6 linked regions of the Homo sapiens genome follow. The protein of the gene in region 1 purifies or fractionates together with the protein of each later gene. This does not show direct contact. Each region holds a gene or a part of one and is shown on either strand. Other genes may lie near its edges. The genes, in order: PXK, UTP25, YBX3, CTR9, ANKRD28 and ANKRD44.

What was found.
Region 2: the proteins of PXK (region 1) and UTP25 purify together in Homo sapiens (affinity purification with mass spectrometry; one large-scale study listed by BioGRID and IntAct). This does not show direct contact.
Region 3: the proteins of PXK (region 1) and YBX3 purify together in Homo sapiens (affinity purification with mass spectrometry; one large-scale study listed by BioGRID and IntAct). This does not show direct contact.
Region 4: the proteins of PXK (region 1) and CTR9 purify together in Homo sapiens (affinity purification with mass spectrometry; one large-scale study listed by BioGRID and IntAct). This does not show direct contact.
Region 5: the proteins of PXK (region 1) and ANKRD28 purify together in Homo sapiens (affinity purification with mass spectrometry; one large-scale study listed by BioGRID and IntAct). This does not show direct contact.
Region 6: the proteins of PXK (region 1) and ANKRD44 purify together in Homo sapiens (affinity purification with mass spectrometry; one large-scale study listed by BioGRID and IntAct). This does not show direct contact.

Annotation. Positions count from the first base shown.
Region 1 is NC_000003.12:58,405,017-58,409,915, reverse strand, and holds part of PXK (PX domain-containing protein kinase-like protein), read right to left. Parts: intron 993-4,899; coding exon 915-992; intron 385-914; coding exon 298-384; intron 1-297. UniProt on the Homo sapiens protein: Binds to and modulates brain Na,K-ATPase subunits ATP1B1 and ATP1B3 and may thereby participate in the regulation of electrical excitability and synaptic transmission. May not display kinase activity.
Region 2 is NC_000001.11:209,854,007-209,858,452, reverse strand, and holds the end of UTP25 (U3 small nucleolar RNA-associated protein 25 homolog), read right to left. Parts: 3' UTR 888-4,446; downstream 1-887. UniProt on the Homo sapiens protein: Component of the ribosomal small subunit processome for the biogenesis of ribosomes, functions in pre-ribosomal RNA (pre-rRNA) processing. Essential for embryonic development in part through the regulation of p53 pathway.
Region 3 is NC_000012.12:10,716,061-10,720,959, forward strand, and holds part of YBX3 (Y-box-binding protein 3), read right to left. Parts: intron 3,084-4,899; coding exon 3,020-3,083; intron 2,062-3,019; coding exon 2,028-2,061; intron 1-2,027. UniProt on the Homo sapiens protein: Binds to the GM-CSF promoter. Seems to act as a repressor. Also binds to full-length mRNA and to short RNA sequences containing the consensus site 5'-UCCAUCA-3'. May have a role in translation repression.
Region 4 is NC_000011.10:10,753,747-10,758,645, reverse strand, and holds part of CTR9 (RNA polymerase-associated protein CTR9 homolog), read right to left. Parts: intron 3,689-4,899; coding exon 3,449-3,688; intron 2,969-3,448; coding exon 2,851-2,968; intron 1,898-2,850; coding exon 1,808-1,897; intron 1-1,807. UniProt on the Homo sapiens protein: Component of the PAF1 complex (PAF1C) which has multiple functions during transcription by RNA polymerase II and is implicated in regulation of development and maintenance of embryonic stem cell pluripotency.
Region 5 is NC_000003.12:15,679,480-15,684,378, forward strand, and holds part of ANKRD28 (serine/threonine-protein phosphatase 6 regulatory ankyrin repeat subunit A), read right to left. Parts: intron 85-4,899; coding exon 1-84. UniProt on the Homo sapiens protein: Regulatory subunit of protein phosphatase 6 (PP6) that may be involved in the recognition of phosphoprotein substrates. Involved in the PP6-mediated dephosphorylation of NFKBIE opposing its degradation in response to TNF-alpha.
Region 6 is NC_000002.12:197,303,638-197,308,536, reverse strand, and holds part of ANKRD44 (serine/threonine-protein phosphatase 6 regulatory ankyrin repeat subunit B), read left to right. Parts: intron 1-4,899. UniProt on the Homo sapiens protein: Putative regulatory subunit of protein phosphatase 6 (PP6) that may be involved in the recognition of phosphoprotein substrates.

The sequences.
Region 1 (4,899 bases):
GCAGAAATAAAACAAAAAATGCTGACTTTACTATCTCAGGCCAATCGTTTCCTCCAATTACATTACGCCATAATCTGCCCAGCAAGCTAGGAAACTACATGGGCTATTTCTCGGCTGATTATCATATGACTCTTTTTTTTTCCCCAAAAAAACTGCACCCCAGTCATCTGGAAATAGTCTTAGCTTTCAAGGAGATATAGCACAGCATCTGTCATTAAATGGGCACCATTAACCTAGAACTTTCTTCACATGTACTCAAGAACTCATAGAGGGACTGCAGAGAGACAGCAGGCTTACCTTTCGAGCTAAAATCTTTCTTTTTTTTCTTTCCTCCTCAGATCCATGGTGGGACTGAGCTCTTGTCAGTCTTCGATGCTGGTGAATCTTTAAAAGACCATAAGATGTAAGCATATCCCACATAAGGCAGCTTCCTAATGAAAATCTTCTCCAACATGTTTTGGCAAACCACATTTTATTGGGATAAAAGAAAATCTTTCCTTGCTCAGGCTGTCTACTTCCTGGCTCGGGTCTGGATGCCAGGTAGAGGAGTATGCCAAAGGAAGAGGTCCTTTCTCATGCCCCTAATGCCTTCCTGCCTTTCCCTCTTTTACAGAAGAAGAATGTGGTGAGACAGCATGGACCATGCATGCCCGCAACTATCACCGGCCGGCATGCTCTGATCAGAAACCCAGACTGCCCTTCCTGGACATGTTTGTTTCCCACATAGACTAGGCAGGACTGAGGGCAGGACTGTCAAGTATTCAGCTCTGCAGGGAAGCATTTAGCCTAAAGGCTGGCTGAGAGTAAGTATGCTTAAAATATTTGCAGAGGGAACAGTCAAAGGTCAATCACTATAAAAACCACGGCAGAGGATGGGGACACTAAAAGGCAAAGAGGAACCGTTATCAATTTACCTGTTTCTGTTCCTCAATTAGTCTCTTCTCTATACATTCTTTGGCAATTCTCAATGCCTCTTTTAACTTTGTAGGGATCTGAAAGGAGAGAAAAGTACATCATCTATTGAAAAAGGTGGCTGGAGATACTTCCAAGTCCTGGAGTAAATGAAGGAGCAGGTGGTTATCAAGAGTCATTTCGGCCGGGCGCGGTGGCTCATGCCTGTAATCCCAGGACTTTGAGAGGCCAAGGCGGGCGGATCACGCGGTCAGGAGATGGAGACCATCCTGGCTAACACGGTGAAATCCCATCTCTACTAAAAATACAAAAAATTAGCCGGGCGTGGTGGTGGGCGCCTGTAGTCCCAGCTACTCAGGAGGCTGAGGCAGGAGAATGGCGTGAACCCGGGAGGCGGAGCTTGCAGAGAGCCGAGATCACGCCACTGCACTCCAGCCTGGGTGACAGAGCGAGACTCCATCTCAAAAAAAAAAAAAAAGAGTCATTTGGAATAAAATCAGTTAAAGCTGTCCATTCAAATCCTACCCCAGCCACTTTTGGTATCCCTAACACACTCACTTCTCTAGCATTTTTTAGCAATGAACACATAAAACTAAAACATAAATAAACATGATATGTTTCAAGTAATGCAAGTAATCCTCAAGGGCTGTAAATTGCCAAAACAATCTGAAAAAGAAAAATAAAGTTGAAGGCCTCACATTTCCTGATTTTGAAACCTATTACATAGCTACAGTAATTAAAACAGTGTGGTACTGACATGCAGGCAGATACACAGACCAATGGAAAAGAAGAAGAGAGAGCCCAGAAATAAATGCTTGTGGATATGGTCAAATAATCTTTGACAAGGGTTCCAAGAACATACAATGGGGGAAAGGACAGTGTATTCAATAACAGTGCTGGGAAAATTGGATATCCACATACAAAAGAGTGAAGTTGGACCCTTACCTTACACCATAAACAAAAATTAACTCAAAATGGATTCAAAACCTAAACATAAGACCTAAAACTATAAAACTCCTAAAAGAAAAGACACAGGGGAAAAGCTTCTTGACACTGGATTTGGCAGTGATTTCTTGGATATGACACCAAAAGCACAGGCAATAAAAGAAAAAAAATTAAACTTCATCAAAATTTAAAACTTTGGTGCAGCCGGGCAAGGTGGCTCACGCCTGTAATCCCAATACTTTGGGAGGCTGAGGTGGGTGGATCACTTGAGGTCAGAAGTTCAAGACCAGCCTGGCCAACATGGCAAAACCCCGTCTCTACTAAAGATACAAAAATTAGCCAGGTGTGGTGGTGCACGCCTGTAATCTACTTGGGAGGCTGAGGCAGGAAGATCACTTGAACCTGGGAGGGCGGAGGTTGCAGTGAGCTGAGATTGTGCTGCTGCACTCCAGCCTAAGCAACAGAACGAGCCCCTGTCTCCAAAAGAAAAAAAGAAAAATAAATAAATAAATAAATAAATAAAACATTGGTGCAACAAAGAAAAACGGAGTAAAAGACAACTCAAGAAATGGGACACAATATTTGCAAATCATAGGTCTGATAAGGGGTTAATATCCAGAATATATAAAGGAACTCCAACAACTCAACAACAAAATATAAGTAACCCAATTAAAAAGAGGCAAAAGACATAGACATTTCTCTAAAGAAAATATACAAATGGCCAAAAAACATATGAAAAGACACTCAATGTCTTTAGTCATTAGAGAAATGTAAATCAAAACCACAATGAGACATCACCTCACAGCCATTAGGATAGCCACTATTAAAATAATAAAATAAATGTTGGTGAGAATGTGGAGAAACTGAAGCCCTTGTACACTGCTGGTGGAAATGTAGAGTAGTACAGCTGCTATGGAAAACAGTATGGAGGTGACTCAAAAAACTACAAAATGGAACTACCATATGAGGAATTCCACTTCTGGGTATACATCCAAAAGAATCAAAAGCAGGATCTCAAAAAGATATTTGCACACCCATGTTCACTGCAGCATTATTCATGACAGACAAGAGGTAAAAGCAGCCTAAATGTTCATCAACAGATGAATGGATAAAAAAAGTGTGGCATATACATACAATGGAATATTACTCAACCTTAAAAATAGAAGGAAATCTTGTTACATGTTACAATATAGATGAACCTTGAGGACATTATGCTAAGTGAAATAAATGATCCACAAAAGGACAAATACTTATATAAGGTTTCTAGAGTAGTCAAGATCACAGAAACAAAGTAGAATAGTGATTGCCCGGAGCTGTGGGGAGGGAGAAATGGGGAGTCATTATTCTATGGGTATAGAGTTTCAGGTTGTAAGCTCTAGAGACCTGTTATACAATAATGTGAAGATAGTTAACACCACTGAACTGTACACTTAAAAATGGTTCAGAGAGTAAATTTTATATTGTATTTTTTATCACAATTAAAAATTTAAAAATTAGGTCAGGCACAGTGGCTCACACCTGTAATCCCAGCACTTTGGGAGGCCACTTGGGGCCAAGAGTTCAAGACTAGCCTGGGCAACAGTAAGACTCTGTCTCTACAAAAAAATTAAAAAATTAGCAGGGTGTGGTGGTACGCGCCTGTTGTCCCAGCTACTCAACAGGCTGAGGCAGGAGGATTACCTGAGCTCAGGAGTTTGAGGCTGCACTGAGCCCCGTCATTGCACCACTGCACTCCAGCCTGGCAACAAAAAATCGCCTACTTCAAAAAAAAAAAAATTAAAATTAAAAATTAAAAAAATTGGCCGGGTGCAGTGGCTCACACCTGTAATCCCAGCACTTTGGGAGGCCGAGGTGAGTGGTTCACCTGAGGTCGAGACCAGCCTGACCAACATAATGAAACCCCATCTCTACTAAAAATACAAAAATTAGCCAGGCGTGGTGGCGCATGCTTGTAATCCCAGCTGCTCAGGAGGCTGAAGCAGAATTGCTTGAACCCAGGAGGCGGAGGTTGCAGTGAGCCGAGATCATGCCATTGTACTCCAGCCTGGGTGACAAGAGCGAGACTCCGTCTCAAAAGAAAAAAAAATATTTAAAAAATTATATAAAGCTTATTGGAACATACATAAATTCAACCAGTTATTATAACTTCAGAGATATCTTCTTTGTGAGAGATTTATGTTCTGAATTTTGTAAGATTAAACTTTCCCAGCTTTCCCTGTTGGGAGACATTCCAAACAACAGCCCAGTTTGTTTCTGAGCCTATCATTTCTTTTTTTTTTTTGAGACAGAATCTCACTCTGTTCCCCAGGCTGGAGTGTACCGGCATGATCTCAGCTCACTGCAACCTCTGCCTCCATCATTTCTCCTTTTTTTTTTTTTTGAGACAGAGTCTCACTCTGTCGCCCAGGCTGGAGTGCAGTGGTGTGCTCTCAGTTCACTGCAACCTCTGCCTCCCAGGTCTAAGCAATTCTCCTGCTTCAGCCTCCCGAGTAGCTGGGATTACAGGCACCTGCCACTAAGCCTGGCTAATTTCTGTATTTTTAGTAGAGATGGGGTTTTGCCATGTTGGCCAGGCTGGTCTGGAACTCCTGACCTCAAATGATCCACCTGTCTCAGCCTCCCAAAGTGTTGGGATTACAAGCGTGAGCCACCACGCCCGGGCCATTTCTTAATTTATTAGCTTTTTAAATCATGAGGAGTCTGGTCCTGGAAGATAAGACCCCCAGATCATGTTGAACTTTTTGTCTTTATTATTCTGTAAAAATTTCAAATTAAAAAAAAAGCTGTAAGTAGGTAATACAGTCACATGGTTTAAAATCCCAAAGGTATAAAAGGGCACATACACAGTGAAGTCTCCCACCTACTTCCATGGAGGAAACCAACATTACCAGTCTCCTGTATATCTTTCCAGAAAGTCAGTGTACATACAAGAACTAATGTTGGATTTTAAAATCATACTATCTTTGCTGCATAGGCTCTCTGGCTTAGGGGAAGAGCGAGGTCTAGTACTAACTCCTGAATCCTAAAGGCCAGACTGTCAGG
Region 2 (4,446 bases), on another chromosome or scaffold:
CTACCTCAGGGTTTGTGGATGCACTAATGGGCACTCTGTATCTAGCTAATCTGATGGGGACTTGGAGACTCTTTATGTCTAGCTAAGGGATTGTGAATACACCAATCAGCACTCCGTATCTAGCTAATCTAGTGGGGACTTGGAGAACTTCTGTGTCTAGCTTAGGGATTGTAAACGCACCAATCAACACCCTGTCAAAACGGACCAATCAGCTCTTTGTAAAACAGACCAATCGGCTCTCTGTAAAATGGACCAATCAGCAGGATGTGGGTGGGGCCAGATAAGAGAATAAAAGCAGGCTGCTGGAGCCAGCAGTGGCATCTCCTCGTACTCTGTCCTGGTGTGGAATCTTTGTTCTTCACTTCTTTGGGTGCATGCTGCTTTTGTGAGCTGTAACACCGCGAAGGTCTGCAGCTTCACTCTTGAAGCCAGTGAGACCAGGAACCCACCAGAAGGAAGAAAGTCCAAACGCATCCGAACTTCAGAAGGAACAGACTCTAGACACGCAGCCTTTAAGACCTGTGACACTCACGGCGAGGGTCCGCGGCTTTATTCTTGAAGTTAGTGAGACCAAGAACCTACCAATTCCGGACACACTGGATTTACAGGTGTGAGCCATCCCTTAGTCCTTTTAAGAGTTCAACAATTAGGATTGCTTCATTAAAAAGGGTAATAATAACTACTATTTATTGAGTGCTTTTATTGTTTTGTTTTTAGAGAAGTAATTATCTAGTAAAAACAGTGTAGGTTTTCAGGATTGTGCTGCCTGTGTGGAAATCGGGAAAAATAAGGATGCTTACCTTAAACGGGTGTGAGGGATTAACTGATGTAATACATGCAAAGAGCTTGGAAGAGTTGCTGGCGCTTAATCAGTACTCCAAAAAATGTTACCTTCAAAACCACCTTTTAATGCAAAAGCATATATATACATACACACACATTGTTGGTTATTATTCATGCAGAAAACAATCTGGGAGGAAACATAAGACATTAATAATGATCACCAAATAGATGTAGTTTGATTTTTGTTTTTCACTATTTCACTTGTATTTGTGGAATGGGCATGGGTTGCTTTTTTAATAAGATTAAAAGAATAACTTTTCAGGAAAAAAAAAAGTTTAAGGAAGTAAGGATGATTGGCCTGGAGAAGCAAGTTTCATAGGAGACATGGTAGATGTATTCCAATAGTTGAGCCTTAAGTGGGGAAAAAAAAAATTTGTACCGTACAGCTTCAGAAACAGGACTGATGGATAAAAGTTTCACAGTGTTTCTAACAATCAGAGATGATTAGAAAAGCCACAATGAGCACCCCATCCTTGAAGGAATTCAAGCAGAAGCTGGAGGCCACCTCTTAGGGATGACCTATAGGTAATTCACGGATCAAGTGGCAGATTAGATCACAAGACCTGTAAGTTTCTATCGAATTGGGGATTCTGACTTATTTCCTATTTGACCTAATTTAGCTTTGACATACACTAGAAGAGATGAGAAACAGGTGGTCATCAGCCTTCAGAGAGCTGAAGTCTGTTCTCTTGCTAATTATTTTTCTGCAACGATCACTGTTTCTATAAATCTTATGAGAAGACACTTGTGTTCCCTCGTTCTATGGATCCAGTGTGGAATGGACACGTCAGAACTGCTAGCAGAGACATGTGAGTGCCCACTCCTCACGCCACCAAATGGCCAGCATCAACCCTGAAGTACAGTCTCAATGTTGGTGCTTGCCAAGAACAGACGAAAGAATAGGCAGTGTCTTTGGAGTTCAGGAGTCTGTGATGCCATTTTTGTCTTCTGTATCAGTCAGGAATGGCTAATAGAGGCCTGGCCTAATGGCTTAAACAAATTAGGTGTTTGTGTGTTCACGTAACAGTAGTGCACAGGAATACCATGCAGGACTGGTATGGCAGCTCTACAACATCCTTGCAGAACCAAGCTCCTTTCTTCACCACTCTCCTACGTACAGAGCTTATAGCCTCAGGAGCTTCAGCCATCACTTCTGCGTTCCAGGCAGGAAAAAGGGAAGAGCAGAAGGTAAAAGTGGTGCTCCTCTGAGTTTTAAAGAACTCCCCTAGAAGTCCTGCTCAGTAGTTAGTGCTTCTGTCTCATGGGCCACATTTTACTGCAAGGGGTGGGGGATGGAAAATGATGCAGTGTTTTTACTAGGTACTTTGTTATCTCATTAAAGTCCAGCGTTCTGGAACTAGGGAAGTAGGTGGATATAGGGCAAACAATAGCAGTCTCTTCCCTTCTCACACAGTCCCTCTATAAGGCTAGTGGGGATTACTCCATACTTCATAAAGATGAGAAAACTGAGAAGTGGTCGTGAGGACTTGTTTAGAGCCACAGAATGTCAGTGGTGATGTTGGTCCCAACACCCAGCTTTGAAAAAATGAGAGAACACAAAGAAACCCATGAACATCTGTGGACAAACACCAGCTGTGAGCCCAGGGCCACCTCTCCTTGCGGAATCAAAACTGGCAGATGAGAGAGGCTGCAGAGGTCAGTGAGGACGAAGGTGGCAGGGCACTGGGGCAGATGTTTCAGTGATGGTGCTCCATGCTCTGTGTCATTCCTTAGGTTGGCAAAAGGTAGACAGCTTTGGCCTTGGCTCAGCTGGGAGAACAGATGGGCAGGAATTCAGCACAACTCCTAAATCAGCCAAGCGGCAGACTGCCTCCTTTCCTTCTCTGGGTCAGCCAAGGCTACAGTTTCCACCTGGTCACAGCCAGCTGCAGAGGCCCAAGACTGAAGCCCATGACAGCTCGGCGAGGAGCACCTAGAAATGTGCCATCCCACACCTGACTGTGAGGGGCCATCAGGAGAACAAGCAAGGGCAGGTGTTTCTTCCAGCAGTGAGGGGACATCTGTACTGAGCTGCCCAGCAGGAGAAAGATTAGATTTCTCTGTGCAAAGCAAACAGCTCCTTATGGCAGTCACATACCTGTCCTCACTCCTTTTGAGCATAGGGCTATACTGAGAAAACCAGTTTGTTTGAAAAAGGCCTGGAGCTCTGTTCTTTCTCATCCCCTTTATCTACCATAGGAATAATGGCAACGTGACCAGAGGTGTAAGGGGAGCCTAGGACCTACTCTGAAATACATGTAATGCAAGTGGAGGCGGCAACTCCCCACATCTGAGGAGGGGAAGGTCCTCACAGAAGGGAAACAGGAACAAAGCAAAAGTAGACAGGAACATGTGTTTAGCTTTAGACACAGGACATAAAATGCAGTTTTGCTGCAGTTCTGGTGAGAGCACGTGGCATAGGAGGAAGACGGCTGAACGTCGCGGGGTTTGCTTGGGAGGAAATGACCAAGCCCAGAGGGAAAGAAGCGTTCCCTCTTTCCCCTTCCAATGCTTACATCAATTTTGGATTATCTGTGTATTTACTCCCCATTCATTGACTCTAATTAAAAGTTGACTGAAATCTGTTTAGAATTCTATGTAGCCAGGCTTTCAGAAAAGCTTTTTAAAATAAGTGTGGAGTAGAAATTTGGTAATGAAGATCACTACCATGCTCCTTTGAGAGAAAAGATGGGAAAGGGACTGGAAGGAGAGGATGGCTAGACGGAGGGAGGGCTAGCTGTGGTGGCCCCACGCTCCTCAGAAGCCGTGCCCTGAAAAGAGCCACTTCTGAGCATTCCACTGACATTACTTTTCCACGAAGCTTTGGGCACCTCAGGCCCCTGCAGTTGGACAATGAGGCTCTTCAGACAACTATAAAGAACTTCCAACTCTTGCTCCCTCACCCCAGGCCTTCTGTAATCTTGAGACCCTAGATCTGCTCACGTGGGCTTGGGAAGGCTGGTCAGATGGCCAATAGGGTCTGGCCCCACCTGCCTTTCCCTTTCCTCCTTCAGCAGCATAGCTCCTTGCCCTCACGAGGGCACAATCAGGGCTGAGAGCCTTCATGAGCCCCCCTTGGTCCTCTGGGGTATGAGGAGTCAGCAGGGACACATTCCCCATCTCCACTAGGACCATCTGTGCTCAATTATAAGCCCTTTGGAAGCAAGCAGAGGGCTGTTTAGCTGCTGCTGGTTCTCTATGATTAGCTTGTTCTTGTTTTTTGAACACTGCACGTGGTGCAGCCAGCTGTGAGAAGCATCCACGATTCAAAGCTTTTTCTCTCTCAAAAAGAAAAGTGCTAAGCTGGTTGTTTTAACTATGGGAAAAGAAAAAACATTTAAAAGTGTTACTTTCTGGGTAAGTTCCTTTCCATACCTTTTAATTCCACTGTTTCCAGGATTGGGACCATCCTTTGTCTATATTTCAGACCCTATATAGGCACTTGCTTGCTGCAAATGAGCCTTGTTAACATCAAGGTAGTGTGTAATTCCAGCTCACGCATCCGTATTTCAGTAGCCTCTCTTCTCGCTTATTGTGTGTTGAGAGAGACCAGATCTTCAAGGCATCCTTTTAATAAAACCATTGCAGAGACTCCACTCTGCA
Region 3 (4,899 bases), on another chromosome or scaffold:
ACTGTTACAGGCTGATCACCTGATCATATCAGATGTATTAATTACCTCAAACCATTAAGCTTCAGAGATTCTCTGAATCTCCGGAGGAGGAAAGGAGGCAGTGATAAAGAAAAACAAATTAAAATGCCAAGGGGATAAATATTTCTGACGAGTAAACAAAATTATCTCAAGAATCAGAACGTATTAGTAATAATCTGGCCTCCCCCCTCTCCTCCCATTTTGCAGATGAGTTAACACGAGGCTAACAGTTAAAGTGATTTATCTGAAGTCACAACCGTAACAGCCCCAGGGATGATGGGGGAAGTGGAGGAGGGGGAATTCATATCCCTGTACTCTACCTATATGATATTTATTCAACTTTTCTCCCATCACACAATTCATGTCAACAAATCCTACATTCCCTGATAATACATTAAAAGGTTAGTGAAGATGCTATTCTTCATTAAACATCTACACCTAAATATCTGCTTATGAATAGGTGCTGCTCTCTCTTGTTCCATCAATGAAGGCAGAAAATAATTCCTGCCATGCATTTCCATTTCTTTGGCTGGTATCTCTAAACAGTTAAAGGGGCTTGCGTTTCTATGGAACTAGGTCAACCTTATTTTATAAAGCGATTAAGCATGTGTAATCCAGCCCGTCCCCTAACTCTGAGTAGGAGGGAAAAGAAATAGTGAGCCAACAGAGCAGAGACCTCACCCATAGAGGAAAAAAGGCAGTTCAGGACAGGCACGCAGCATGAACATTCAGCCATTCCAAAAACAGCCCCTCCCTGCCGGCTCGCTCCCTTTTTCCTGTTAAACTGGGCAAGCCTCAACACATTGAGGTGACTCACCACACAACCTCACGGGGGCTGGAATCGGGTCATATACTCACAGGCTAATAAAGCCAGCCACCAATACAGCAACTTCTGAGGACCTTGACTCTAGCAGTCTTCAGAATTCTTACCCTAAAAGGTCTATTAACCTCAAACCTCCAAGTATTATAAACAACACTATTATGACCCTAAAAGTCACTGTATCTGAACAAAATAAATCTACTCAAATTATCTAAATGCAACTGAGATATATCCAGTCAAGTAGAAATATAAACAATAGAAACCACAGCTAGATACCACTATCTCCAACTCCTACGGTCACTCCAATACACACACAAACCTAAACAGAAGGAAACAAAAACACAGAAAATCAGATGTATTCTGGATTTCTGCACTGCAAGAGAATGGGCTGGCATTAGTACCTGCTGCTCTATCTTCCTTATTGTTATACTCTGAGAACGCATATTTCAGACAATTCACTGAAAACTAAATAAACAAAAAGAACACTAAGGATAGTATTCCTTCTCTTAACCTATTTTATAAAGGAAGTCTAGGACATATTAATAACAGAATAAATAACATCCTAGGCTAATAAAGCAAAGAAAAACTGAGGCACCTATAGCAGAGAAGCTCCATATCTTACCCATTTCCTCTATTTCCTGCAAATCTAAGGGAATTTGCAGCTTTTGACCTGGACACGTCCTAACATGCCTCATTTAACAAGAGTGAGGGCTACCCTGGGAACTGGAAGTTTTCTCATCTTACTATCTGCTTCTCTGCGCTATTTACTTCAATTGAGAGCTGCTCTGACAGAGGAGCTTTAACCAATACCTACCCAGGCAGAAGCCAGATTGGCTCCAGGCAAACACTAAGGAGGAACCACATCAGGAGAACAGGATGCTAAAAGGGAAACAGACTTTTCTTTTTTTTGCTAAGGACTCAAAGGCTTTAAAAATTAGAAAGTGGTCTAACCAAATATCACTTTATACAACTGCAAAAATAAAACTATTTGAAAACAGTTAATATGATGGGGTAGAAGAACTTATTTGCCAATCTTAAAATGTGGAACTGAACTCCTGTTGCAAAATAAATCACAGAAAGAGTTTAGATTAAAATAATAATCCATAGGACTTACTTTTGGGAAAGGGCTGACAGAAGATTACACACCCTCTCCTCACATAGCAAATGTAGTATTTATAATCCCTCTTACCTGATGTACAAATACATCTTCTTTGGTGTCATTTCTGTTGAAAGACAAAAAGCTCACAATTAAAGGTAGTACGTATGTGGAAAAACTTAAAAGAACCTATGTGTTATGAATTTAACTCCCAAGTCCTCAAAACACAACATATATTTTCACTTATTTTCTACACTCAATTCAGACACCTAAAATCCTTGTTAAACATTTCTAACTCCACAGGCCACCCACCTTCCTCCTCCACATTGCCACAGTGCTTAGATCCAAGCTCACAGACTCAACATACAGAAACATCCCGTTCCTCTGTCTCTTTCTGAATCACATGGTGTGTAATCAGAGCCTCAGATTTTCCTCCCAGCAAAAGCAAAGCAAGACAGTTAAAAGGACAGGGCACAGCTGTGAACTAGGCTCTCCTTACACTGAAACTTAAAACAGCCCCCCACCCCCACCCCACCAAAGGAGACAAGAAATTGGAGGACTTTAAGAAGGGGTGGGAAAGCAAAGAAAATGCCGATATCATGTGAAAACCTCATAATACTCCCAGCATCTTGTAGTTATGTTCTCATTCCTGTACGGTTAAAAGTTACCACAGTTTACAGTTTCTACATAGGACTGGACCAGAAGTGAGTTAAAGATCCAGCTCAATGACTCACTAGTTGGGTGACCTTAGGAAAGCTGCTTAACCAGTGTAAGACTCCGTTTCTCCATCTGTGAAATTATGGATATGGTCTCATTTATCCTAAGGCCCTTCCCATTTCTGATTTTATCTCCCCCTCCTTTTCTTCCTTAATGACTAGATTTTATGAAATAAGTTATTTATTAGTGTCCTGGAAATGTATTTTAAGTAATATTTAACAACCAGTAGCTTAGAAATGAGAATATTTACAGTGCTTAGAAACCTAAAAAATTTATATAAGCCATTAATGAAGGCTAAGGGATTTATAACTCCTGGTGCCACAATGTAAGTATAAACTTAAAACATGCAAATATACACACACACATACCGATTTATAAATCCATATCCATTTCTGACGTTGAACCATTTGACAGTGCCAAGGACTTTGGTGGCTAAAATAGGATTAAGCAGATAAATTAGTATCTGACCTACAGAGAGATATAGCTCATATCACTAAGATCTTGATAACATTAGACAAAGCCTAAACATACCTAAAGAAACCATTAAAAGCTTAATTCCAAAATACTTTAGAAAAAGAAAATGGAGCAAGCCAAGATCTCATAAGGAAATACTTTTCAGAAGACTAAACCTTTCTTCCTTATTCAACTTTTCAGGAAACTCGCAAGATAAGGAGTGGTTATAAGTCTATACAATTCTGTAATCATTAAAATTGAGAAACACTGAAGGAAAAAAAGAATGTTCAAGATGAATGTTCCAAGTTTTAACCTAGACAAATTTTATAAGTTCAAAATAGGAGCTACAATAAAAGAGTGAAAGACCTTAACACATCACTTTCATACTTGGAAATATTAGGCAAACTTTAATGAGAAACAAGGTGGCTCCTTGTTAACAGGCAATCTACAAAGACGTAAAGCAACTTGTCCAGTCGCCAAGTGGGAGCTCATCAGAGGAGTCAAGAATAATTATAGAACTGCTGCTGTCTCAATCCAGTTCTGTACTTACCACTCTGAGACGTGATATAACAGGTCTTTTCAAATCACATGATGAATTTGGGCTTGTTTCTTTGTTTACCTTGCTCTCTACAGTTTTGCGAATCAAACTTAAGCATTTTTCCATAAAATCCCCCTCTTTACCATAATGGTTGTCTCTACCTCATGAGCAGGACCACTTCTCTACAATGCCTGATTTTAGCAGAATTGAGAGAAGGAATCTAAACAAAATAAAACTTCATGTAACTTGTATTTTGTAGGTTTATATTTATCTCAACTATTTCAAATATGATCTTTGGAATCAATTATGAATGACAAATTCAGTACTTCTAGGAAATGCCCCTGTCTCAATTCAGGAAGTGCAAAAAGCAATTATAAAGACTCAATGAAACAGGAAACCTGATAATAGATTACCTTAAAGAAAAAATAAAGAAAAAAGCCTCAGTAGAGAATGAAAGTAATTATTAACATCAATCCATACTGTCTTTTCATAAGATACAAAGTTTATAATTTCCAAGGATAAACAATAAGGCTTCACTTTTAAATTCAAAACTAAAATAGTAATTAAGACTTGCTCTGTTGTAGGCAGGGGTAGTTCTGAAGTTTGCTAGACTGATACACTTGGGAAAATACTTTAGCTCTCTTTGTTGGGGGAAAGAAAATCCAAAACAAAAAAAACATGTCTTTATATCTCCAAAGTTATGCAGTCTACACTGATGAGGCATTCTCCAGCTTTAATTCCAAAGATCTCTCATCTCTCCAAAGGAGAGATCAAACCCAGGCCATCTTACGTTTGAGGCCACTCTGATTGGAGCAGCAAGGCAAAGGAGAAAAAAACAGTTGATGTTTTCGATGCAAATGTACACAGTAGAGGCCTGTTTTTGATACATTATATGCATTTAAGTCAGGCAATATTCCAAATAATATGCGTTTAGTGCCTCTTTTCATTTGCCCAAAAAATTAATTACCTGGGAAAATATAAAGACTGGAACTGTTTTTAATATCTAGCATTGTTGAAGGAATAATCTTGATTAAAATGACAATACTAATAATAAAGGAAAAAGATGATAAATAATTCTCAGGTCTAACCTCAATCCAAGCTGAAGGTTATTTTTACTCTCCAATGTAGTTTAAAAAAGTTTCGTAATTCCGCAAATACTTCTCCAAGGACTTCTTATGATCAAATTCATTCCCACGTCTTGCTTTAAACCATAAACCCACTTCATATACACTAAGGGGAAGGGTTGGGGAGGAAGAC
Region 4 (4,899 bases), on another chromosome or scaffold:
TAAAGCTCTAAAAGCTTTAAGGCTGAACTGCTTAATTTGACAACTTATATGTCTAAAAGGTATTTCAAACTTTTCAGGTCTAAAACTAGTTCCACTTAAACTATTTCCCAAATATAGTAAAATATAACTCTACTTTTCCAATTGCTTGTGCAAGGGAGTTATCTTTGACTCTTCCTCTCTGTCTTATACATCATAGGTACTCCATCAGCTCTCCTTTCAAAATACATGTAGAATCTGACCACTTGTACCAACTCCACTATTACCTCCCTAGTGTGAGCCACAATCACCTCTGACCTGCCTGTCTGCAGATGCCTTCTCCCTGCTCTCCCTACTTCTGTCCTTGACCCCCTCCCCTTGAGCCCCACTCTAGTCTCAACCCCAAAGCTCAAACGAACCTTTTAAATATAGGTCAGATCACGTCACTCTGCTGCCCAAGGCCCTCCAATGGCTTCCCATCTCTGTCGATGTAAAAACTAAAGTCCTTACAATAATCTGTGATGCCCTACGTGATTAGTCAGTCCCTGGTTATAGCTTTGACCCCATTTCTTACTACTTTCCCCCCAACTCTTTCTCTCTCTATTCCAGAAACAATGGCCTCCTTACTCTTCCTTAAACTTACCAGGCACTCTCTTTCCTCTGGACCTTTGTACCTTCTATGCTCTCTCTCTAGGAGTGGTCTTCTCCTATATATCTGCATGGCTGCTAGTTGTTTTTTAGGTCTTCACACAAATGTCACTATCTCTGATGAGTTTCCTTGGTCATCCTTTCTAAGCAATTCCTGATGCTTCTCATACCCTTTTTCTGCTTTATTCTTCTCCTTGGCTCTTACTGGTAGCTTACACATCATACATACTTTACTATTTATCTTGCCCACTGAAAACTGGACTCCATGAGGGCAGGAACTTTTGTCTCTTTGGTTAATTGCTACATTCTCAGGGTTTAGAACACTGCCTGCCACATAGTTGGTACTCAGTAAAAATTTGCTACATGAATGACATTTTGGAAAGAAAAATAGTATAGGGCAAAAAGATTATATTATAATCTACTATCCAGACTTTTTTTTTCTTGAGACAGGGTCTTGGCTCTGTTGCCCAGGCTGGAGTGCCGTGGCATGAACATGGCTCACTGCAGCCTCAAATGCCTAGGCTCAAGTGATCTTCCTGCCTAGCCTCTTGTGTAGGTGCGACCACAAGCACTACCATGTGCGGCTGATTTTCTGTAGAGATGGGGGTCTCCCTTTGTTGCAAAGGCTAGTCTCAAATTCCTGGGCTCAAGCAATCCTTCTACCTCACCCTCCCAAAGTGCTGAGATTACAGGTGTGAACCAGTGCAGCCAGACCCTATCTATTTTTTTTTCCCCTTGAGACAAGGTCTTGTTCTGTTGCCCAGGCTGGAATGCAATGGCACAATGATGGCTCACTGCAGCCTCAACCTCCCAGACTCAAGCGATCCTCCAGCCTGAGCCTCCTAAGGAGCTGGGACCACAGGTGTGTGCCACCATGCTCATGTAACTTTTTTATTTTTTGTAGAGACAGGGTCTTACTACGTTGCCCAGGCTGGTCTCAAACTCCTGGGCTCAAGTAGTCCTGCCTCTGCCTACCAAAGTGCTGGGATTATTGGCATGAGCCATTGCACCTGGCCTTACTATCCAGCTTTTGACTCAAACATAGCATCAAAAAAAAAACTTGATTCTGACATTTCTATAATCCAACAATATCTTTTCATAACTTCATAAGCAACTGACAAATCCTCAATGCTTTAAGCTGGGTAATACACAGTTTAGACATAAAATAAAATTTTTCTCTTACCTGGACATCCTGGGTTAGTACGCAATGCTTTCTTATAGTAAGCAAGAGCTCCTCTGTAATCCTTCTTGTTGAAGGAAATGCAAGCTTTACCTGTAATGATTTTTAAAAATAAACACAGTGTCTGATTAAAGGCTACAAGTCTATTATGTTTTACACTAACTTATCTAAGTTAAATACATCTCTGAGTGAGAAATACTTGAAAACACAGAACAAAATTTCATATTAAAAATTTGTTTTTCATAAAAGTATACTAATTTATGTCTAAAAATAAAACTTCCTATTTTTATGTTAAATGTTATAAAGTTAGCAAACTAACATAGGAACAGAAAACTGAATACTGCCTGTTCTCACTTATAAGTGGGAGCTAAATGATGAGAACACATGGACACAGAGGGGAACATCACATACTGGGGCCTTTTGGAGGGTGGAGGGTGGGAGGAGGAAGAGGATCAGGAAAAATAACTAATAGGTACTAGGCTTAATACCTAAGTGATGAAATAACCTGCACAACAAACCCCCATGACCAAGTTTACCTATGTAACAAACCTGCACTTGTACCACTGAACTTCAATAAAAGTTTAAAAAATGTTATAAAGTAATAATTGAAATAACTTTAAGTTGTCTAAGTAGAGATTGTTTATTGGCTCTTCAGAAGTGTATAACCAATTACTCTTTTTTGAAAAAATTATTTTTTGTAGAGATGGGGTCTTGCTATGTTGCCCCAGCTCGTCTTGAACTCCTGGCCTCAAGTGATCCTCCTGCCTCAGTCTCTCAAAGCGCTGGGATTACAGGTATAACGAGACAGGGTCTCAAAGTGCTGAGATTATACCATGCCTGGCCTAAATAATAAATTATTCTTAACTGGTATATATTTTATTTCTACAATTTCAACAATATTTGTTGTAGGTAATTTCATTTGTAACAACATAAAGCTCTTCTACTTTGCTGTCTAGCTGAGTTATTAAGGAGCTATTACCAAGAGATATATTCTAGGCATATGCTGAAAACAACTGTTTCCTAACATGTTGCCAAAGACCACTTACCAAGAAGGGCTGGAATATTATTTGGAGACTGATTGAGTACAAAATGAAACTGTGCATCAGCTTGATCCATTTTGTCACCCTCAAGTAGGCAGAAGCAGGCTCTTCCCAACAAATGGTTCTATGAAGTAATGTATTATCTTAGATTTTACCCCTATATACCATGAACATGTAACACTAAAGTGAAAACCAAATAGGAAGGAGGTGGAGCACAGTGCAAATTCCCCTATCAAATGTAACGTGCTTAAGCTACTAACAAGCAATTCTTAATTACAAAATAAGAAATTATCCTGAAATGTAAGTCTTCTGTGCCAATAACAACAACCAAAAGAAAAATTTAAATTCCTTAAAATATCCTTGAAATTCACCTGGAGATAATAAAATTACTGGAGCAAGTTTTATGTACTACATTTGTCCATATTACTTAAACAGTACAAAAACCAAAGCATTCCGATTTTAATGAGGAACCTTTCTTCTTTTTGACTCTATCAACCATGTTACTTGAAGAAAAACTCTTTCAAAAAATCTGCTATCACACACATTTTGCTTTCATGTGCTTTTCTCCCTTCATAAATGGAAAGAAATTTGACTTTATTTTTACCTGATCATACATAATAATTTTATCGGCCATTGTATACAACAAGGTGGCCTGTGTAATAAGATCCTTTTTATTGTCCTTATTCTTTTCTTTCCGAGCCTGTTGTACATAATACGCTGCCAATGTATCCAAGCAAGTCATCTGGTCTTTTTCATGGTCTCTATAGTCCAAATTGCCATCTATACGTGCTGCTTCCAACAATTTTACAAACTCTTCTGTTTTTCCTTGCTTGTAGTATTCCAGCTATAAGGTAATGAAACAAATTAGAATCACTAAAGCATATGTCCATATAAAAAGTTGTACACAAATGTTTACAGCAGCTTTATTTGTAATAACAAAAAACTGGAAACAATCAAAATGTTGATTAACAGGTGAATGGATAAACAAGCTGTGGTGTATCCATAAAATGGATACTATCCTACAATGAAAAGGAATGAACTACTGATACATGCTACAACATGGATAAATCTCAAAATAATTATGCTGAATGAAAGAAATCAGACCAAAAAAAGAGTACATATTGTGTGATTCCATTTATATAAAACTCTAGAAAATGTAAAACAATCTCTAGTGTCAAAAAGCAGACCAGTGGTTGTCTGGCACAGGGATTAGGGGTGGGGTGGGGGACTTGTGGGGAGTGGTACAGAGGACACTTTCAGAAGGTGATGAATGTATTCATTAATCTTGATTGTGGTGATGGTTTCACAGGTATATACAGATGATAAAACTTATCAAATGGTAAATGTCAAATATGTGCAGTTTATTATAAATCCATTAGACTTTAATAAAACTGTTTAAAAAACTGGAATCATTCACAATGTTCCCAATCTGCTGCTTATCTAGTTGATTTCTAACTAAAATTTTCAGATAAGTAGAGCCTAAGAGAGAAAACAATAGTGAAAGATATGAAGAATTCTAAATAGAAAACTTGGGTTCTGGTTCTAGATCTACCAAAAATTATCTGTGATTTGGGCCTGTTTAACAACTTCTCTAGGCATCTGTTTGACTTATAAATAATAAAAGAAATATCCACTAGGTGTGGTGGTATGTACCTGTAATCTACTACTTGGGATGCTGTAGTGGCAGGATGGCTTGAGCCCAGGAGTTTGAGTCTAGCCTGGGCAAAATAGAGAGACTCTGTCTCTATGTGGAATATCCACCACTTATTAACCACTGACTATTGGTCACATACCATGAAAGGAATTTCATACACATATTCTCTAATCTGTACAACCACTCTATGAGGTAGATGCTAACATCTCTATATTTTAAATGAGGACATATGCTCAGAAGTTAGATCATTTGTCTAAGGTCACATAGCTAGTTAGCAGCCATGCCGGGACTTGATCTAACCCCAAAGCCTACATTCTTTTCCCTGTAAAAATCTATATCCCACAATGTGTCATTAATTTATTCTACTACAGGTGCCATGCTAATCCTCCAATATTCTAATT
Region 5 (4,899 bases), about 43 Mb from region 1:
CACAATGCAATGGACTAAAAGCATTTCCTTCCGTTTTCTGGAAAACTTCCTGTTCTAAAAGCAGTTCTACACATGTCTCGTGACCTAAATAGGTGTAAAGAACCAGGTATTAAAATTCAAAGGAGATACTGGCAAAAATCACAGGTACATGTAAGTGTTTAAAGGAAAAATGTAAAAGTCTCTCCCTCATCCCATCTCCCAGATCCCCTCTCTGGAATATAACCATTGGTAGCTGTTAAGCCACCAGTAGTTCCTGAAAATTTCTAGGCATATACAACTGCACGCACAAAATACATACAGTTGGCTCTCTGTATCCGTGGGTTCTGCATCCATCAATTCAACCAACCCCAAATTAAAAATATTTGGGGGAAAAAAAAAACAGAGCAGACTTTTTTTCTTGTCATATACCCTAAATACAGCATACCAATTATTTACATAACATTTACATTACATTGGTTATTATAAGTAATCCAGAGATGATTTAAAGTATAGCAGAGAATGTGCATAGGTTATATGCAAATACTATCCCATTTTCTATAAGGGACTTGAGCGCCTGTTGGTTTTGGTATTCACAAGGGGTCCTGGAAACCAATCCTCAACAGCAAACGAGAAATGACTGTGCTATTTTTTTATTTTTTTCTTAATGGCAATGGGATGTTTAATTCCGCAACTTGCCTTTTACTTAATATTAACTACACATATCCTTCCATAATAGCATATATGAAATATTATTATTATTATTTTAGATGGAGTCTCACTCTGTTGCCCAGCCTGGAGTGCAGTGGCGCGATCTTGGCTCACTGCAACCTCTGCCTCCTGGGTTCAAGTGATTCTCCTGTCTCAGCCTCCCAAGTAGCTGGACTACAGGCGCCCACCACCATGCCCAGCTAGCTTTTTTCGTATTTTTAGTAGACACGGGGTTTCACCATGTTGGTCAGGCTGATCTCAAACTCCTGATCTCAGGTGATCCACCTGCCTCAGTCTCCCAAAGTGCTGGGATTACAGGTGTGAGCCACCATGCCCGGCTAAAATCTTATTCTTTAATGTTCTGAAGAGCTTCACAGTATCAAAGTATATCATAAATTATTTAATCTAATTATGGATTTTAAAGTGATTGCTAGTTTAAAAAAATTCTTCATGATATTATCAACAACGCTGTAATGAAACATTCTGGTATTTTTTTATTTTATTAAAACAATTTTTTGAGACAGGGTCTTGCTCTGTTGCCCAAGTTGAAGTGCAGTGGCATGATCATGACTCTCTGCAGTCTCAACCTCCTGGGCTCAAGTGATCCTCCCACCTCAGCCTCCTGAGTTGCTAAGACAACAGGTGCAAGGCTACCACACCTGGCTAATTTTTTGATATTTTGTAGAGATGAAGTTTTGCCATGTTGCTCAGGCTGGTCTTGAATCCCAGAGCTCAAGTGATCTGCCTGCCTCAGCCTCCTAAAATGCTGGGATTACAGGCATAAGCCACCACGGCCAACATTTTGTTTTTATTTTAGGAAGTATTTTTGTAGGACAATTTCCTACCAAAGTGATATTGCTGTGGTAAAGGAGAAGTATCCAGCCTTGGTATTCTTGGGGGATTGGGTCCAGGACTCCCCACTGACAGCAAAACTCCATAGTCCCTTATACAGGTCCCTTGTACAAAATGGTTTATTTGTGTATAACCTATGCACATCTTCTCATATACTTTAAGTCATCTCTAGATTACTTACAACTTAATTCAATGTAAATGCTATATAAATAGTTGTTGTATTGTTTAGGGAATAATGACAAAAAAAAAGTCTGTACATGTTCAGCCTAACTATATTTCTGATGGACATTCAGTTGAATTCACCGATGGGGGACCCATGGATATGGAGGGCTGACTGTATTGACTGTTCATCAATATCTGGTCCATAGTTTTTAACAGTAACTTCAAAAACAGAAAAATCCAAATTTCAAATTTTCTTACCCTAATTCCAGAGCCAGGGTTTTAATTTAATACCCTAATTACTACAAATAAAATGTTGCTTATTTTATTTCATTAGTCATTTGGGATCTACTTTAGGAATAAGATTCTTACATGGCCTCTTTATACATTTTCATGGTTTAATATTTGCCTACCAAAGTGATGTTATATTTTCTTTTCTTTTTAAATTACTCAAACTTAATCAGCTTAAACTTTACCCTATAATTGTGGAAAAGTAATTTTTAGAAAAACCTGTAATTGTGTTCCATCTTTTGTCAGTTCTTTTCTCTAATCTAGTAGTTTTCAAGTGGATTTTGCCCATCAGCAGATATTGTATGTGGCAATGCCTACAGACATTTTTGTTTATCACAACTGAAGGTGGGGCAGTGCAACTGGCATCTAGTGGGTAGAAACCAATGATGCTGCTAAACATCTTGCAATGCACTGGAGAGTCCCTTGCAACAATCATCTGGCCCAAAACGTCATAGTGCTGAGGTTGAGAAACTCCTTTAATGCCATCGTTCTGAATGTTAACTCATTACTAAGATACAGCAATGGAAAGTTGTCCATTGTTGACTTAAGAGCCCCTCATTCTCCAGGTATATGGGTTCTTAAGGTGTGGCCTAGGGAACCCTGGGGTGACGCAAAAAAAATATGAATAAAAACACAGATGAGAACCCAACTATTCTCTTAAATTAGCTATGAAGAGATGTACTACTCTTCTCACTAAAAAGAAAATACTTTTGGAAAATAGTTTTCATAAAAAAAGATTATTTATGTTAACATGTAATAGACATTATTTTTAAATAAATCAGTAAGTATTTAAAAATTTCTCAATTACAATTTCTAATACAGTCAGTATCAATCCATAGTTCCTGAGACCAAAGGGTTTGAGAACCACTCACCATCTGAGTACAGACTGAGAAAAGGGAACAGTGGGGCCCCTTTGTGACCTCCAGAAATCATTACTGGGTGATATCAAGCAGACAATCTCATAACTTTCTATCATCATTTATGAAAGATAGATAGGATGGTAAACTGGGTCCTCCTGAGTTTCAGAGGCTAGTCTGAGGATGTTTAGAGCTTCATAAAAATGAACACATTTTTTAAAGGAATAATAAGTATTCTTAAGTTCTGTGATTGAATGACTATATAAACTGAAATTGTGAACTTTTAGTATCTACAGCCAGTGTTTTTCTAAAACTTGGCCATCATTTCATTTTAATTTTAAGAGGTTGTTTTCTGTTCTGTTGGCATGCTTCCACTTTTCTTTCCAGCTGTACAATAATTACTAGTTAAAGTAAAAACCATTTTACATATTCTACTTTCAGAATGCCAAATTATAAAACGGGCTTTTGGCTATAAATATGGTATTAATTTTAGGCTGTCTATATAGTCGCTTATTGCATATAGCCAACACACATTAAATTCCTTCCAGCTCAAATTCAGCATCACCACAATTTTGCTACAGGCTGAAAATCAGACACATTTGTTATGATCTTTAAATGGCAACCAGGCATGCAGTTCTTGCAAAATTCTGTCTCTTGCACAAAACGTGCTTAGAGTCTAAATTTAGCAGTGATAGAGTAGGAACTCACTTTAGGGAAAATGTTCTACATATAGATCTGATAACAAACACTGTAATAGAAAGCAACTCTCCAAAGGACAGTTACAGCAGTACATTTACAACTAAATGCTCTTCCTGAGGAAAAATATCTCACTGTGTGATTTTTCCAATGGTTAATCTTCAGGGATATATTTTTTTAAAAACCAAGCAGTAAGTCTTTGCTTCTGAACAGTTTTATCTCACTGACTTTTTTACAGAAACACAACTCACAATTGTAGATATTTTCCCACTATATTAGATATTTTGGGTTTTCCTTATACTTGTAAAATGTCAAGTCACATTACAGAAACAAATCAAACATCAATGGCAAAATACAGTATCTTCTTTGTTCTAGTATGAGTACTAGTCTCTGGCCACTTCACTACACTCATTTCTACTTGCCTTAGCGAGTAGAAATGGGAAAAAGAGAAGTTAAACCCCAAAGGTTTTATAGTTTTCAAAACTGTTTTGGTTAAGGATTTAAGGTAGTAAAAAACAAAGAGACTAAACTAGCTTGTTCAATGAGCAACAGATTTAACTATTCAAGTTTTTATGGTGCTATCAGTACTCAGCTGAAGGATAACCAACAGTATAACAGGACAAACCTCAAGAACCCAAAATGTTCTAACGGCAAAAGAATACAACTCCCAACTTTGGCATAAGGACTAATATGAAAATCAAAATATTGTATCTCAGAAATACTTGTGGAAACATTTAATGAAGTTATAATTTTACAAGATTCAGCTTTTTCCTCTTTTGCTTTAACTTGATAACTTTGTCAGAACAGCTCCCAGTGAAAGAACTATGAAACAGCATATTATAGAAAGATAGGAAATCTCAACTTCCTGGTAAGGCAGTCTGATTTTACAACAGATATTATACTTATTTATTTTTAGCAAATGGGTATTTATATAAAGAGACAACTTATATTTTCTCTGCATTTTGAGGGAAGGTTATTAGAATTGTGAACTACAGCTTTGTAGATCTGCTGTCATAATTAACATTAATCTTGAAGCTACACTGAAATTGAAAACAAATTTTAAAAACCTCTAATTTCTCTACTAAAGCCTGAAGCTTGAACTTTGACAACACTGATGCTTGCACTGTATATAATGTACTTGAGTTTTCTAAGATGATCAAATCTAAAAATATCTCAACATGCTTCATTGCATAAATTATTTTAATTAGTGGCATTTCATAAGCCAAACTGCATTTTTAACATCTATAACTTCAAAGTAGCTTTATGCTTCCCTACGTGACCTTTTATGAGTCTACCTATAAAAGCGATGACTGTGACTGTGAGCCTGTAGGAGGCCAAAGAAAATCTCTTTTAACCA
Region 6 (4,899 bases), on another chromosome or scaffold:
CTTGGGACAAAGTCAGAAGGAGATGGGGTGGGGAAGTGGCCTGGGTGGGGTGGGGTGGTGAACAACGATGGTTTCTGTGTAGCTTTAGGTCCAGGAAGTAAGTGTGTGGTCTTTCTTGCCTTATATAGTCTTACCTTTTCTGTTTGAGACTCAATTCTTAGAAGTCAGTTCTTAACCTCACAGATTAACTTTTAAAACCATTTGCTTAGACCACTACTAGAAGAGTTTTGCTCCATCATTGTGGGCAGGGAGCCGCCCGCCTGCTTGGAATCCCTGCCTTAGAGTTTGTACAGGAGTACCTTGCTCTCCATTCAGCTTCTAGTAAAACAACCACTTCTTAATTTCTCCCTCCTTTTTTTTTTTTGTGTGTGTGTGTGTGTGTGTCAGGGTCTCACTCTGACTCGATAGTATGATCATGGCTCACTACAGCCTTGGCCTGCCAGGCTCAAACATCCTCCCACTTCAGCCTCCCCAGTAGCTGGGACTATGGGCGCGTGTGCCACCACACCTGGCTAATTTTTGTATTTTTTGTAGACACAGAGTTTCGCCATGTTGCCCAGGCTGGTCTCAAACTCTTGGGCTCAAACAGTCCACCTGCCTCAGCCTCCCAAAGTGCTGGGATTACAGGCATGAGCCACTGTGCCTGGCACCTCATCTGTTGAATGCCCTATTTGTGAAGTGAATCTTGATTTTTGCTAGGCCTCTTGGATTTTTTACTGTTGATAACCTGAAACACAAATTGTCTGGATTTGTCTTTAAATGTGGCAAAAGTCAGGGGTGACAGATGATGACATTTTCTCTCCAGCTAAAGCTGGGTGCAGGAGCTTGCTAGGTGAAGCAGACACTACTTCAGCAGTCAGTCCTGTAGTGACCTCTCAATCTTGTAAGAGAAGGAAAATGTTTTTTCCTAACTCTTTTTTTTTCAGGAGAGTAAAAAGAAAAAGGGAGAGACCAGTGTAATTTTTAGTCTTTTTTTTTTTTTTTTCACTGTAAAAAAGGAACTGGGAGCTATCACTACAAACAAACAAACTTGGCATTTAGCACTTCTGCATTTGTAACTTTTGTAACAGTGTCCCTTCTGTTTTCCTCTTCACAGGGCACACATAATTTTTATTGCAGCCTTAGGGGGCACTAACCATCCTGGTTTGTGCAGATTGACTGGTGTCCCAGCATATGGGGCTAAAACCGGGAAAATTCCAGGCAAACTGGGAGGAACTGGTTACCCTGTGTAACATAGAACATCCTCAACTATGTCATTAATATAATAATGTAATTAGTTCCTTGTATGTGGACATTAGGAGTTTTATATTTTTTGGTAAAGTGAGATAATTTTAAGTTTGGGAAAGAAAATTTTGTTAAATACAGATCTAAGGCATTTGACTCAAAGATAGCCATGAAACCTTTTTGAAAATTGATTTGATATTGACTGTTTTAGGGTGTTCTTTATGTCATATAGTTAAAGGCACTGTAGTCATTTTAAGTGTGTGGTCGTATCTTCAGCCTGGATCTCTACCCGAAATTTATTTTCAGAGTTATGAAGCTAGGATGGTAAGTTCTGTTGCATGTTTAAAGTGTCCACTATTCTTACCTGCATTTGTTAATGATGGCAGAACACTACTTTCATCTCGGAGGCTGCCTGCAGACAAACTGTTTCAGCAGGTGGCCTTTTTGGAGCTTCCTGCCTGGAGGCCTTCTGGTTTGGTGTTCCCTTGCCAAGTCCTAGTTCACACTTGAGTCACCTACCTTCTTGCCAAAGGCAGTGGCTGGCAGCGGTGGCAGTGGCAAGAGACTAGAAATCCTGTGTAACTTTGGGAGCAGGATTTCTAGCCCATAGTGTGGGGCCTTGGGACGTGTTACATATTTTACTGGGCTGCCCTTGTTCTTCCATGGCTCCCTAGAGCACTGGTGTTAAAGCAAACAGTATGCTGTAGTCCTGTCTTCAGCATAGAAGAAGGGAAAAGAAAGGCTTTATTTAGAACCTTTTCTGGTTGTTTCAGGACCCAATCACATGGTTTTGAGAGTGCACTTGAGGCTGGTGTTTCATGGCAGAGACCTAATAATGTCACACATTTATTGTGCTCTTATTGTATACTGGGCCTTTGCAGTGAATCATGTCTTAATCCTCATAGCCACACTAGGAGGTAGGTGGTGGTGTGATTTCTATTTTATGGATGAGAAAACAGGAATAGAGAGGCTAATTGACCGGTTTAGGGTCATACGCCCAGTAAGTGATCTAGCACACTGTCCTACCCTGGCAGTCTGATTGCACAGGTGGGGCTCTGACCACAAGGCTATACTTTTCATAGTTGAAAGGGCAGTGCAGCCATGGGATTAATGGGTGTCTGATCTTGTTTACAGAGAAGCCATTGGATGAACAGCGTTCCCTGAACTCCTTCTGCCTCTTGGGCCAGACCCATTTCTGTACATAGTAAGGAGCTGCTCTGAGGCCTCTGCCCCTGCCTGGCTTATACCTGGCTTTTCCCATTAGCCTCTCCATTTCCTCACCCCGGTGAATGATGTGTTGGTAGTTCAGTGATTTTTTTCATATATATATATATATATATATATAAAACGAACTGCGGTCATTATAGGAAAAGCAGAAAGCTAGATGAGCAAACCAAAAAATTTTAAAACCATCTGAAGCCTGTATACTCAAGAGATAACTATTCTTGACATTTTGATATGTTTCCTTCTAGTCTTCTGTCTGGGTAGCCAGTTAAAATTTTTAAACTTTTCGTGTGATAATATCATTACCTTTCACTTGTGCACATAGCTGATATCTGTGTTCTCTACACCAATGACTTTTCCAAATAAACTTATTCTTCTCTTACATATATGATTGGCTCTTTAGCCAACGCCAGCACATAAGCTCTAGCTCTGGATTAATGGAACTAACTTTTTTCTTTTTCTTTTCTTTCTTTCTTTCTTTTTTAAGATTTCAACTTTTTACTTCCTCTTTTGCTGTAAACAGAGAGCAAATACGAACTCAAAAAGGCACAAATTGTTTGTACCAGAAACAGAAATGAAAGATTCTTTAAAAAGATTTGTATTTCTACAAGATAATGTGAATTTTTATAGGCTAAAGTATAGCACGAAATAATTTAAAAACAGGCAGAGCTACAGAGATCTGATAATTTTGTGATTTCCAAATTTGTTTAAGCTATGACACTCCTTTTTTCCCCCGAAGAAATTTCATATTGAAGCTCAATATATAAAAAAGATTGGCTTGGACAGTGGTCCCTGAGTCCCTCTTGAAAACTGGTTGGGTTTAGTATTATTTGAAAGCCCCTTTGTATGAGAAAACTCCTGGTGATTGGTTAAGTGTTTTTTGTTGTTGTTTTTGTTTTTTTTCCTGACACATCATGTATGAAACAACATTTATAAATGTTTGTGAATGATTAGGAACTACACAGAACTAGGATGACTATATCATTTTTATCCGTTTGAGAATCATAGGTGATACTACTCAATATGAAGCCACAAATAGACGTGAGCCAGGACTGTCCTGGGTAAACCTGGATATGTGGTCATCATATATTCACATAGACTCCATGTTTGCTCACCACAGGCTTGACAGTGACAGTAAACTAGTTTGACTAGCAGACTACTCTGTCTCTTTTGAGTCAGGTCTACAGTGGTGCAGGTATTACAAAGATTGTTTTATGACCTTGTGCAGAGTTGGGAAACAGCTTCCATGTCACACATGAGTTCTGATCGGTCCAGGACTTGCAGGTGTAATGTGATAGAAACATTCTGACTCTTGCAGTCAAGGATCCGAGAAAGTGTGATTGATTACCAGTGTTTGCTATGGGTACACGGGAAGGGAGAAGTGACATATGTTGTACATTAGCCAACCCTTGGCAAGACATGTTAACCTCTGTAGGCTTCAGGTTTCTCTTTGTAAAATGAAGAGGTTGGACTGGATGCCTTTATGGTGCCTCAGCTCTGCCCTCTCCCTTCTGTGACTTGGTGCCTGTAATGGAGACCGATGCTCTTCACATGGTTTGTGTTATAGCATTTCTTACAAATGTGCCTATGAAGGGTGTATTTGCAGATGAGCTCTAATAAGGCTTTCCAGGTAACAAAGTCAAACAGCTTCAAGTTCCAGAGAAGGATTTTAACCCATGTCAATGACTTAGGACTAATTCCTATTCTCCACCCTACTTCAATTCATAGATAATCTAAGATTACCCATTTTATTTATTCTGTATTTTTATTTTTTTGGGACAGAGTCTCGCTCTGTTTCCCAGGCTGGAGTATAGTGGTGCAATCTTGGCTCATTGCAACCCCCGCCGACCCCCTCCTGGGGTTCAAGTGATTCTTGAGCCTCAGACTCCCGGGTAGCTGGGATTACAGGCTTGCACCACTACGCCCAGCTAATTTTTGTATTTTTAGTAGAGATGAGGTTTCACCATGTCGGCCAGGCTGGTCTCAAACTCCTGGCCTCATGTGATCTGCCTGCCTCAGCCTCCCAAAGTGCTGGGATTACAGGGGTAAGCCACCACACCTGGCCTAAGATTGCCCTCTTTATAGATTACTCCTTTTTAACCTTTTAACCAATATATTATTTGGCTTTGGCTGCTTTCAGAGGTCGGGAATGCAGGTATTTGCCCTTATCAGTGTTTATGTTTGTAAATATGTTGGTAGCCTAAGAGGTTGAAATTAATGATTCATGAATCCAGCTTGTAATTATGATATTCATAATTTTTAAGGATCTTTTCACTTGCCTCCTCTTTTGAAAACTTAAAATTTATATTCTATAAAGTGAGCTAAGCAAATAAATATATAGTCCACTTTGGGCTGTTTCAGGGATTACTAAGTCGATAATTGTTTGCATTTCTTGGTTTTTGTTTGCTTAGAGTCCCCTTGCTCCCATCCTGGGGAGTCTTAAGCATCCAA